2 separate regions of the Homo sapiens genome follow, and region 1 is linked to region 2. Evidence: fine-mapped expression QTL. A gene starts in region 2. The other region holds a variant in brackets. All regions are shown on one strand. Distances are between the middles of the regions.

Region 1 (5,367 bases), 27 kb after region 2:
AATGCCTGTCTCTCACAACTGACCTTTTTGTTATTCCTTCCCCCACTAGCATAACCGTACATAACTTCCCTTGAACCACCATTTACTAAGAGCTATTACATCAGGAAACAGGCAATTCTGTGCATAGTGAACCTAAAGATAGCCACAGAGGCAATAACTCCTCCTGACCTCTTGATGGTAAAAGGGAGTCTTCCAGGCTGAGCCCCTGGAGGCGCTGCTCTGTGACCCGTGTCTGTCACTGTGCCCCTTCTGAGCCACAGCCTGCTACCTATGCTGATTGTGTGGCCCTGCCATCCCTTATTCGAAATTCAAGCTTGGCTCACTTTCTAACAGGTTGTCTGTGCCCCCTTTCCCAGAAGGGTTGACTTGCAAAGATTCACATCTTTGTCACGGGCACAGGACCTCCCTGGGGGAGGGGTGGGGGTTGTCAGACTGTCAAGCTCCCAAGCAGATTTCCTTGTCTTGATGTGCTGCCTCGTGGCCACCAGGTGGGGACGCCAAAGGACTCCCCTCAGCCAGTGTCCAGGATGGAAAGAAAGCCCCTAGCGCTCTGGGGACTCAAGGATGGATCTTAAGGATGGCACTGGGGAGTCTATCTTATTGTCCTTTAGAAAGAGGGGCTTGTATCCTGAGACACAGGCAGTGACTCTCACTTGGGAGTGACATCACTGAGCCACGAGAGACTGGCATCTTGGCCCATGTGAGCCAGAGCTCCACACTCGGGTGTCTGTTTCCTGGGTTAGGGGCTCTGCTGAGTAGAAATGCATTTCCTTGGTCTTGTTGCATGCATATCTCAATATTAAGTGACCTCTGGCACAGGTGTTTCACATTTTTATTCAACATCTTAATTCAGAAACATAGGAGCCAGGATTGTAAAATCTCACTTGGCAAAGGCAGAAGTAAACATGCAGTAAAGGGGTGGTGACTCCAAGTGATCATATTCGAGTTTGTGTGGCCATCCATAAGGTAGTTGCCACACTTGAACTTGGTTATGAATCTTTTAGTGTCTATAGGGCTAGATCACAAAATCTCGACTTCGACTGACTGTCCACACCACTGGCTTCCAGTAGTGATCTGAATCAAGTATAAATAGTTACTGACACCTCTGATATATAAAAGATTAAGCATGCTGCACAGTGGCCCACACCTAGGTTTCACTTCCCAGGCTCTTGCAAGGATCTGGGTCTTTCTATCCAGAGTTCCCCTACTGTTGGTCTAAATCTCTGAAGACTTGAGTTCAACTTGCCAGGCAGCTGGTTTTGCTTGGAAGACTATCTTTACATCAGATCCAAGCATGGGAGGTTTGGCTTGGAAATTCAATCAAGATTCCATGGGTGAGACCTCCTTAGAAGCCTGAGGGGCAAGGTGTTGGGAATCCTTGCCAAGAATTTGGCAAACAGCTGTAGGCTGATATCTCACTGACTGCCTGAGGGCACCATAAAAGGATCCTCAGGTGTGAGGACAAGTGAGCAGTTGACCAAGTCAAGGGGGCAACAAGAAACTATCCAGATAGTCTCTGCAGAATGTTTGGGAATGCCTCTGGCCACTTGCCGTTCTATCTAAACATACTAGCTTTCTCTCCCTTAACTGAAAATCCAAAGTGTCAGTGACCGACCACTCGCATAATGGTGGCTATACTAGTCAGGGTTTCCTAGAGGAACAGAATAGGATGGATACACACATATAAAGGGGAGTTTATTAACTTACACAACCATAAGATCCCCAATAGGCTGTCTGCAAGCTTGAGGAGCAGAGCCAGTCCAAGTCTCAACTGAAGAACTTAGTCCGATGTTTGAGAGGTTAGGAAGCATCCAGCATGGGACAAAGATGTAGGCTGGGGGTCTAGGTCAGTCTCACCGTTTCATTTTTCCTGCCTGCTTTATATTTGCTGGCAGCTGATTAGATTGTGCCCAACAGATGAGAAGGGTTGGGTCTGGTTTTCGCAGCCCACTGACTCAAATTTTTATCTGGCAACACCCTCACAGATATACTCAGGAACAATAGTTTGCCTCCTTCAAGTTGACACTTCAGTGTTAACCACCACAATGGTTAATGCTGTGGCAAAGTGACAATATCTATGCGTACCATAAATTATCCCACCCAGTAGCAAATTCTGCAGGGCAGCTCCTCTGGAGACTATTTTTCCCCCCTCCCGGAAGGCTGTAAACTGAGAGAACTTTGAATGAACAAATTCCCAACATAGCAGCCCGCATCATTTCAGCATGTCTTTTAACGCTGATTGCTTTTCACCTTCTGGCAGTTTCCCAGGCTCTGGGGTTTAGTAGGCACATCCCCTTCACATCAGGATCATCTCCATGCTCATACCCAGTCTTTGAACCAGTTCCTGGCAATCAGCTTTCAGCTCAGGGCTTTGAGCTGCAGATGCTCCGTCGTCC[T/C]CTCTCTCCTGAGCAGGTGAAGAATCTTGACTTTGAGTTGGTGGTTCCACTTCTTCAGGTGGTTCATGACTGAACTGCTTGGGCAGAATAGGCCAGATCACCTTAGGTTGTACAGATTGTATTGGTCGAGGCTGATTGATCTTCCTCACCGACTCATTTCACACAGATGAGTCTCAGTAAAGGAGTCAACCGCCGGAATGTGACAGCATATCCTCACAGCTCCCCAGGACACTTTCTTGGTGTTGATTCTGCCTCTCAAACTTAACTCACTGTGATGTCCAAACTTTGAAAAGGGAGCCTACTGATACTCATGGAGGGACAGGCATGCAGGGGACCCGTGTGCAGCGTCAGAAGGTGTGAGGCTGCCTTGTCAGTGTGGTCCCCATCTTTGTGCTAGTAGCTGCTTCTCGCCAAGAGCCAAGGTTCTTCCAGGTTGGTAGGGGAGGAGGCAGTGCTGAATCTGACTTCCCAGCTTGGACCACGTTACATCCACTGACACTCATGGCTCATGGTGGTTGTGTGGTTGAATTGTCTGGAAAGTATATGCACTAAATTAGGAATACAAAAGATCTACGATTTAAGAAAAGGGAAGCTGTCCCATCATAATTGAACCTGACAATTTTGCCAGTCCAGCAGGGAGCTTTGGAGCAAGATAATCCTCAATTTGAATCCCACATTAGGTGGAAATGGCTCAGCTCAATGTTGGCTTGGGGCCACCCCAAAAGGAACATGAGCTAACAGCTAGAGCCCTTAGTAGGTAAGCATGCTCACAGCCAGACAGTTCTGTGAAGGTGGTGTGTGACATGTTGTCAGATCTGCAAGTGATGGGCAGCTATGGTTTCAAATCGGGTCTGTAAGGACTGTCATTCTAAGATGTAGTTGATAGTCACTGTATCTTCTGCGAACTACATCACAGCTGGCCAACACTTGACTGGTTTAGGTGACCAAAGTCTTTTGTTCCTAAGTGGTCTGAGATCCTGGTCTGGTCAGGTTATGGCCATTGTGAAGCCTAGCCACTGGGAAGCTCCAAAAAGTGCCCTAGTGACTCACCCACATCCCATATACTTTCCTCCCTGTATCAGCAACCCCTGATCTCCAGGCAAAGGAGCTCAGAATAACCTGGTGGCACTGCTTTTGTTCCCTGGTGGAAGTGTCTAGGACTGCAGTGTCTTAGCCTGCCAGAACTAACCTTGCAGGGATGGAACATGAATGGTCTCCCTCCTGAGCATTGTGGGTTGTGAGGGAGAAATTTCTCCTTGGATCCAGACCTATACTCTTGCTACTAGATAAATAGTATAGGACATCTGTCCAAAATACTGCAACTCAAATATGCTAGTTCCAGACTGGGTTTCTTGTTAGCAAACTGCCTCGAAACTGCTGGTGAACCAAGGGTAGGCTATGGAAGAGGCCATCACAAGCCAGTCTTCTTTCCCCCTTGAGCCAGGTTGGGTCGGCTGTGGAATAGTTCATGGAGATGGTGCAGTTGAGCTCTTGGAGGTGCTGAGTCAAGACTGGAAGAGTTTGTCTAAAACGTGTAATAGATTTAAAACCTGTGAAAAGGGGAAGGAAGCAGGATCGGGCAGAGGTCAGACTAGGATGTAAAGCTTGACTGAGCCTGTCGGGGAGCTCCAGAGGCAGCATCTCATTAAGGTGGTTCCAGGTCACAGATGGGTAGGACTGCTGGTTTGGCTAGTTCATGGCTGTGGGCTGCCCTTGGAGGGACTGACTAAGGCTGGCAGACTACTCCCTACTGAGCAGCATGTTGTGTCTTGAATAGGGATTGGGTGGTGGATTTGTCTAAGGGATGGTGGCTTTATAGAGGTCTTAATTGAAGTCTGTTACAGGTCAGGACCATGGAGTTGGATGGCTGTCAATGGGCCTATTCTAGGAGCGCTCGGGTGGCCGAGTTACACCTGGCTATAAGTCATCCCGTGCACCTGACTAAATGCATCCCGTGCACCTGACTAAATGCGTCCCGTGCACCTGACTAAATGCGTCCCGTGCACCTGACTAAATGCGTCCCGTGCACCTGACTAAATGCGTCCCGTGCACCTGACTAAATGCGTCCCGTGCACCTGACTAAATGCGTCCCGTGCACCTGACTAAATGCGTCCCGTGCACCTGACTAAATGCGTCCCGTGCACCTGACTAAATGCGTCCCGTGCACCTGACTAAATGCGTCCCGTGCACCTGACTAAATGCATCCTGTGGGAGCTTCATGCCAGGCTCTGACCGACCTATGACTTGGCCTATATAGGTTTCCTGCCCATTCCCATGGGTTCCTCCCCATTCCCATGGGTTCCTCTTTATGCCTCTTCTCCAGATCTTGTTGACTTATCTTCTAATCTCCTAGGGCCTGGACAGCCAGTCTGTTTAATGCATATGATTCAGTATCTTTCCTTAAACTTCTTATAAGAGACAATCAGGTGAATTTAAATCCTCAGTGGGAAGACGTGGTCCGTTTCTTACGGTGCCCTCTGCATAGTGTTGGAGTGGTTTATATTTAGCGCTCAAAATAAGCCAAATCCATCTATAAACCCTGACTCTAACTTTTCCTTTTCTAACTTGCTTAAGAATTCCCAAGGAGGTTAGAGCTATGAGCTTTGAGAGGGGTTGTAGGTACAACAGAAGTTGGTGTGGGAATCAAACGCCTGAAAACGTCACTAATATTGTAGGCCCTGGGGTTTCTGCAGGCTTCTCCCTCATTCTTGCATAGGAGTGTTTATCCCGTGAGCACTTGTTACTTCCTAATTGCCAAGTGTGACTTATGGCAATAATAGCCCTGCAAGATCTCCCGTGAAATGCCAATCCAGATTCCTGTGGATTGGATGGGGGTAGAGATGAGAAGGGTTAACCTGAGGACAAAGACTACATTGCTAGCCTTCCTATTAATATGTACTGATGGCCTTTCCATCTTATTTAAAAAGCAAATGGATGCTAGCCCTCTTTGGAGCATTGAAATAGTCTATTG
Region 2 (5,367 bases):
TTTAAGAAGCTATCACAGGGCCAGATGCACAGCAGGTACTTTATGTGAGGCCCCCTCCCTGGAAGTCAATGTGGACTGCAACGACAGGGAAGGCCTGGTTAGGGGCAAAACGAAATATCCTACTGCTCTGTATCCGAGGACGTGTTAGTGGATTTTATTTGCCAAACTACTAAATATCTCTTTAGGGTTGTCTCAATTTTTATTTTCTCAAAAGCCTCAGGACCTGCCTTCGGAGACTTCCAGATCATTACCATTAGATCCCTGGTGATTTTCTCCAGTTCTAAGCAAGGCCCTTCGGCTTTCTAGGAATCTGTGTGACTAGCAAGTTGTTAGCACCTTCAAAGCACATTCACACCCGCCCACCCCCTCATTTGAGGGGCCCAGCAATCCAGGGCAGGTAGAGCTCTGTCTTCCAGCAGAGGAACAGCAGCGACTGCCTGGGTTAACGAGACAGATGCGGGCAGAGCCAGCAGCTCTTCGGACCAAGAGGCTTCTCCTTTCACAGAGAAGGAAACTGAGACCCAGAGACCCCTTCATTCCCTCAGCCAGTTGCTGGCCTCCTGGAGGGCAAGTGTGTCCGATCAACAGTCCCAACCTACCAAGGGAAATCAGGCTGACTTTAAGTTGACAACCCTTGTATGCCTATGGCATCAATCAAAACATACATCTTTGTGCCAGCCGCCCCCACTAAGCACAGCACAGGAGAAATCACCCAATGGCCGGGCCGGCACCTCCAACTCCCACCCCACCAATTCCATCACTCAGGCTGAGGAAGGGAAAAGCAAAATTTAAGCGTGTAACCCAGGAAGGGAGGGAGACTGACAGACTGGGTCACCCCAACAATTACAGAGGAATAACATGAATTTGCAAGGATTTCCCAAGGAGCTGGCTCTAGAAGCCTTTTCAGCCTGGGTACCGGAGGCTTGCAGAGAATGATTCATGGGAAAACACTGCTTCCTGTTTTTGCTTTGGGGCTTAGATCCATGGTGGCAGATCTGGCTGGCCCAGAGGCCCGGGTGTTTTTCCGGGCTCTGCCATACTGGAAGACCAGGGTATTAACAGCGAGTTAGCTGAGTGCCATTCCATTCAGCAAGGGCTCAAAGTGCACCAGGCACCGCTGGGCTTGAGGGACGCCAGCAGCTCATTCATTCCATCTGCCCAGCCAGCAGGCGAAGCGAGAGTGGTCATCATCTCATCATCTGTTTTACAGACGAGAAAACTGGGGCTCAGAGATGCCCAAATCGCCAATCTTCTCAAGGTCACGCAGCGGCCGACCGGGTCAGTCTGATCCCTCAAATCCGGAGCCCTTGCTTTTAAGGAATGAACTAATCTAATCTCCCATCCACGTACTAACCAGGCCTGACCGTGCTTAGCTTCCAAGATCAGAGGCGATCCGGCGCTTTCAGGGTGCTATGACCGTAGACAGAAACGAACTAAGACTCAGTTTCCTCATCAAGAAGGAGCAGACAAGGACCTGGGTGAATCTGAGGCCGGCTTCCGGGGCTCCGAGGTGTGGCTCCCGGTAGAGGGGGCGTGGCGCCCTCACCCTCCCCGGGCCAATGGGCAGGAGGTGAGAAGTGGAGAGGAAGGCGAATTATCCCATCCCAAGGTGGCTCCGGAGCAGAACCGCGCCCGGGGTAGGGGGTACTCACGTCGATGTTCCTTAGGATGACGCACTTTCCATTGGTGTACAGAAAATTGTTGCCCTTAGGGTCGCCGCCGATGATCTTGGAGACGCCCCTCTCCACCTGCGGGAGGCTGGCGAACACCTTCTCTGCGGAGACACAAATGCGGCGGGGCATGTCAGGGCAGGGCGGGGACGGCGGGGACAGAAGGGAGAAGGAGCCCCGGACCGGTCTCGGCCGGTCACCTGTTGACTGCGCCGGGAGGGCGGCCTCCACTTTCCACGAGCGCCAGGAACCGCGCGACTTCCTGGTCCGCGCCCCGGGCCAGGCCCTTGGGGGCAGCGGGGCTCCTCCGGCTCGGCCCACGGCGCCAACTTGGGGGCGCACCCCCCGTCGGGGGTCCCGCCCTGCACCACCGAGGGCGGCCCCGCCACGCCTCCGGCCGGCGCCCGCACCCCTCCCCCGCGCCGAGGACTCCCCCGCCACCCGCACGGCGCCTAGGGGCCGGGGACCGGGGCCGGGGCAGCGCGGCGGCCGCTCGGGGGCCCCGCGCCGCGGCACTTACTGATCTCGTACGGCATCCTCGCCCACTTGTTACCGCGCCGCGCTCGCCGAGAGCCTCCGGGGCCGGCCCGCGCTGCGAATTACACCTCGCCGAGGCCGAGCCCGGGGACTGGAGCCGGAAGGCGGCACCGGGCGTGCCGGGAGTGGAGTGGGCGGTCCGAGGCCGGGGCTCAGAGGCCAGCTCGCGCCTGCCCTGCGCGCTGTGGTTGCGGACGCCCCGAACCCGGAAGCGCGGTCCCGCGCGCGGCTCGCCCCCAGCTTTGACCATATATAGTCAAGCGCTCGGCTCGGCGGCTGCGGTCCCGGCGAGCCTGCGCGGACCTGGCGCTCCCCTCCCCCGCCGGCCCCGGCCCCGCCTCCGCCTTGCTCGCCCCGCCCCGGAAGTGACGTATAGCACGCCCCGCGGGCCCTTGAAAAGGCGGCGCAGACAAGCAGCCGCGTCAGAATGCTTCTGGGAGTCGGGGGGTGGGTGCCTTTCTGTTGCTAGCTTGTAGGAGAAGCTGGGCTGTAGGAAGTTTATTTGCGGGGGGGTCTTAAAGACGCTGAAAGTACTGGCGGGCTTTGGTGGGGGTCTGGAAAAACCTCTCTGTACCTGTGACCGCGTTGCGTGGCGGGCGCTCCCCGGCCTCTCCTTTTTGACCGGTCCCGGGCGTTGCCCAGCCGCCAGTCCTCCTGCTCGGGTTTTGTAAGCAGGAGAGGGATGCTTTTTACGTCTTCTTAAAGTACGGTTAAGTGCCCTTGCTTGAAGTAGTTGCTGGCAACAAGAACGTAGGGGTTACTCTTTGTTGGGCCTGAACTCGTGCTTTTTCTCTCAAAAGTTGAGCTTTTGAAAGGCAAAAAAGGCGTGGGGGATGGGGGAGCTGTCGGTCTTAAGGAAGTTAAAGGTTATTTCCTAAACAAAACAAGTCTCACTCCTAAAACCAGGGTAGTGGCTCAGTTGTGGCGGGAGAGCAGGGGCTGTAAAGTGTCCAAGTTTCTAGTCTCATCTTTCAGTAGGATGGGTACAAGCTTTCCCCTTGGGGCTCTGGGGGCTGGGAGGGTTGTAAAAGTGGGAGAAAGCAAAGTATTTGGCGGGGTGCGGGCGGGTAGCTGAATGTTGTTGTAAGTGGAAGAGGAATGCTGTTGGCGTCTTTCTCTAAGCACGGTTAAGTGCTTTTTCTTGAAGTAGTTACTGGCAACAAGAACGTAAGGGTTACTCTTTGTTAGGCCTGAACTCGTGCTTTTTCTCAAAAGTTTAGCTTTTGAAAGGCAAAAGTGGGGGTGGGGGCGCTGCTGCTTTTAAGGAAGTTAAAGGTTATTTCCTAAGAAAGCAAAACAAGCCCCACTTGTAAAACCCGGGTAGTGGCTCAGCTGGAGAGCAGGCGCTGTGAAGTGTACAAGTTTCTAGTCTCATCTTTCAGTAGAATGGGTACAAGCTTTCCCTCGGGGCTCTGGGGGTGGGAGGGTTGTAAAAGTGGGAGAAAGCAAAGTACGTGGGTGGGGGGTAGCTAAATGTTGTTGTAAGCGGGAGATGGATGCTTTTGGCGTCTTTAAGCACGGTTAACTGCCCTTGAAGTAGTTGCTGGCAACAACGTAGGGGTTACTCTGCTGGGCCTGAACTTGTGCTGTTTCTCTCTCTCAAAAGTTAAGGTTTTTAAAAGGCAAAGGCGTGGGGAGAGGGGTAGGGGAGCTGCTACTTCTAAGGACGTTAAGGGTTACTTCAGAGCAAAACAAGCCCCACTTCTAAAACCAGGGCAGTGGCTCAATTGTGGAAGGGAGAGCAGGGAATGTGAAGTGTCCAAGCTTCTAGTCTCGTCTTTCAGTAGCGTGGGTACAAGTTTTCCATTGGGGCTCTGGGGGCTAGGAGGGTGGTAAAAGTGGGAGAAACCAAAGTACTTGCGGGTAGCTAAAAACTCTGAAACCCACGCTGTGAGCGGTTCCTGCTTCTCTGAAAGGTCTGTTCTGCTTAAGGTTGTATCAAGGTTAGTCTCTTGCTACCTACTTCTGTAGAGCAGTCTCTCGTGGCTCACCTGGGTTAGTGGCCATGTTGCCTGTCTCCTATTCTTCCTAACCTTGTGTGTTCTCCAGGTAGCTGAGTGATCCATCCGAAGTAAAATATTCCTCAGCTTGTCTGTAGGGGCTCCAAGTTTCATGAAGTAAAAGCTAGTCTTGAAAACGGCCCATTAGGGTCCTGGATGACAGTCTCCGGGTCACTTAGACTCCGTTGTCCGCCTCCCCTCATCTGTATCATCTTTGCCTTGGGTACTGGCTTCGGAGGGTGTTTTCCTGAAACTCTTACCTGAGATCTACTTGGCTGACTCCTGTGTCCTTCAGAAGTACTTAATTGCTCAAATGTTAGTTGATGAGTGTCACCGGTCTCATTTTAAATTGCAACTTCAACCCCTTGCAAACACTGCTTCTCATTCCCGCGTTCCCTAACTTTAACTCTCAGGAATAACCCTGACACCTGGAAGATGCTCCTAGGGATGACCCCACTCCCCACCCACAACTGTTAATCAGGAAATAACGGATATGAAAGTAGCTCTGCGAACTGAGGAGCCGTGGAGAATGTACAAAACAGATTCCTAAAGTAAGATACGCAGGCCCGGCTTGTAGGCCGCTGCATCTGCTTTGATAACTTAGAACTCATCAAATCACCTTGAGACCCTTAAAACAAATGGTATAATTGCATTCACAGGTAGTGCATTCGTGTAACAAGATTAAGAAAACGAAGGACCAACTTCAAGCTCTTGCAAGCTGGTAACCTTTACACTCGTGCATAAAGCCTTGCTGGAGTTGACACTGAAAACTAAACAGTCGAACTTGAGTAAAACATATCCAAACTCCCAGCTGCTGGGCTCTACAGCTTATTTTTAGCTTGAAAGTTACATGTTGGAGCTGCAGAGGCTTTATGGTGGTGGTGGGGGAGCTGTTTGTTCGTAGTCACTTGAGTCTATATGAACGTGGCAGGAAATCTGAAGGATGTGAAAGGAAAATGGGAAACACCAGGGTGTTCCAGGATTTTCCCTGTGGGGCGCGAGCTCAGTTTGGTGTTGTCAGCTGTGGGAGCTTTAACACTTGAACCGTCTTTACTGTGGGTCTAGCCTATTCGTTGGGCTCCCCTAGTCACCACTCATGCCTTCGTGTATCCTGTTGTGTTGGGCCCCCACTGAATTAAATAGGGATGGCACCATGTTCG

Evidence for each region. PIP is the estimated chance that this variant, and not a neighbour inherited with it, causes the effect.
Region 1: its variant is the best candidate, but not a certain one, in a credible set for the expression of WDR1 in whole blood (TOPMed, PIP 0.86).

The regions. Positions count from the first base shown.
Region 1 is chr4:10,141,127-10,146,493 of GRCh38, forward strand. No RefSeq gene overlaps it. Among named protein-coding and RNA genes, the nearest start is that of WDR1, 27 kb to the left of the region's middle. The variant T/C (reference allele first, on the strand shown) is at 2,397.
Region 2 is chr4:10,114,461-10,119,827 of GRCh38, forward strand. WDR1 (WD repeat domain 1) reads right to left here and starts at 2,339. Exons shown (of 15, transcript NM_017491.5): 1 at 2,191-2,339; 2 at 1,653-1,774. The coding sequence starts at 2,206. It overlaps LOC124900666 (a long non-coding RNA gene), which reads left to right and starts at 2,629. Exons shown (of 2, transcript XR_007058030.1): 1 at 2,629-4,758; 2 at 4,867-5,017. It also overlaps the pseudogene RNA5SP155. RefSeq lists enhancers at 1,196-2,000, 1,651-1,800, 3,571-3,670, 3,751-3,840 and silencers at 1,881-2,030, 2,111-2,520, 2,531-2,650.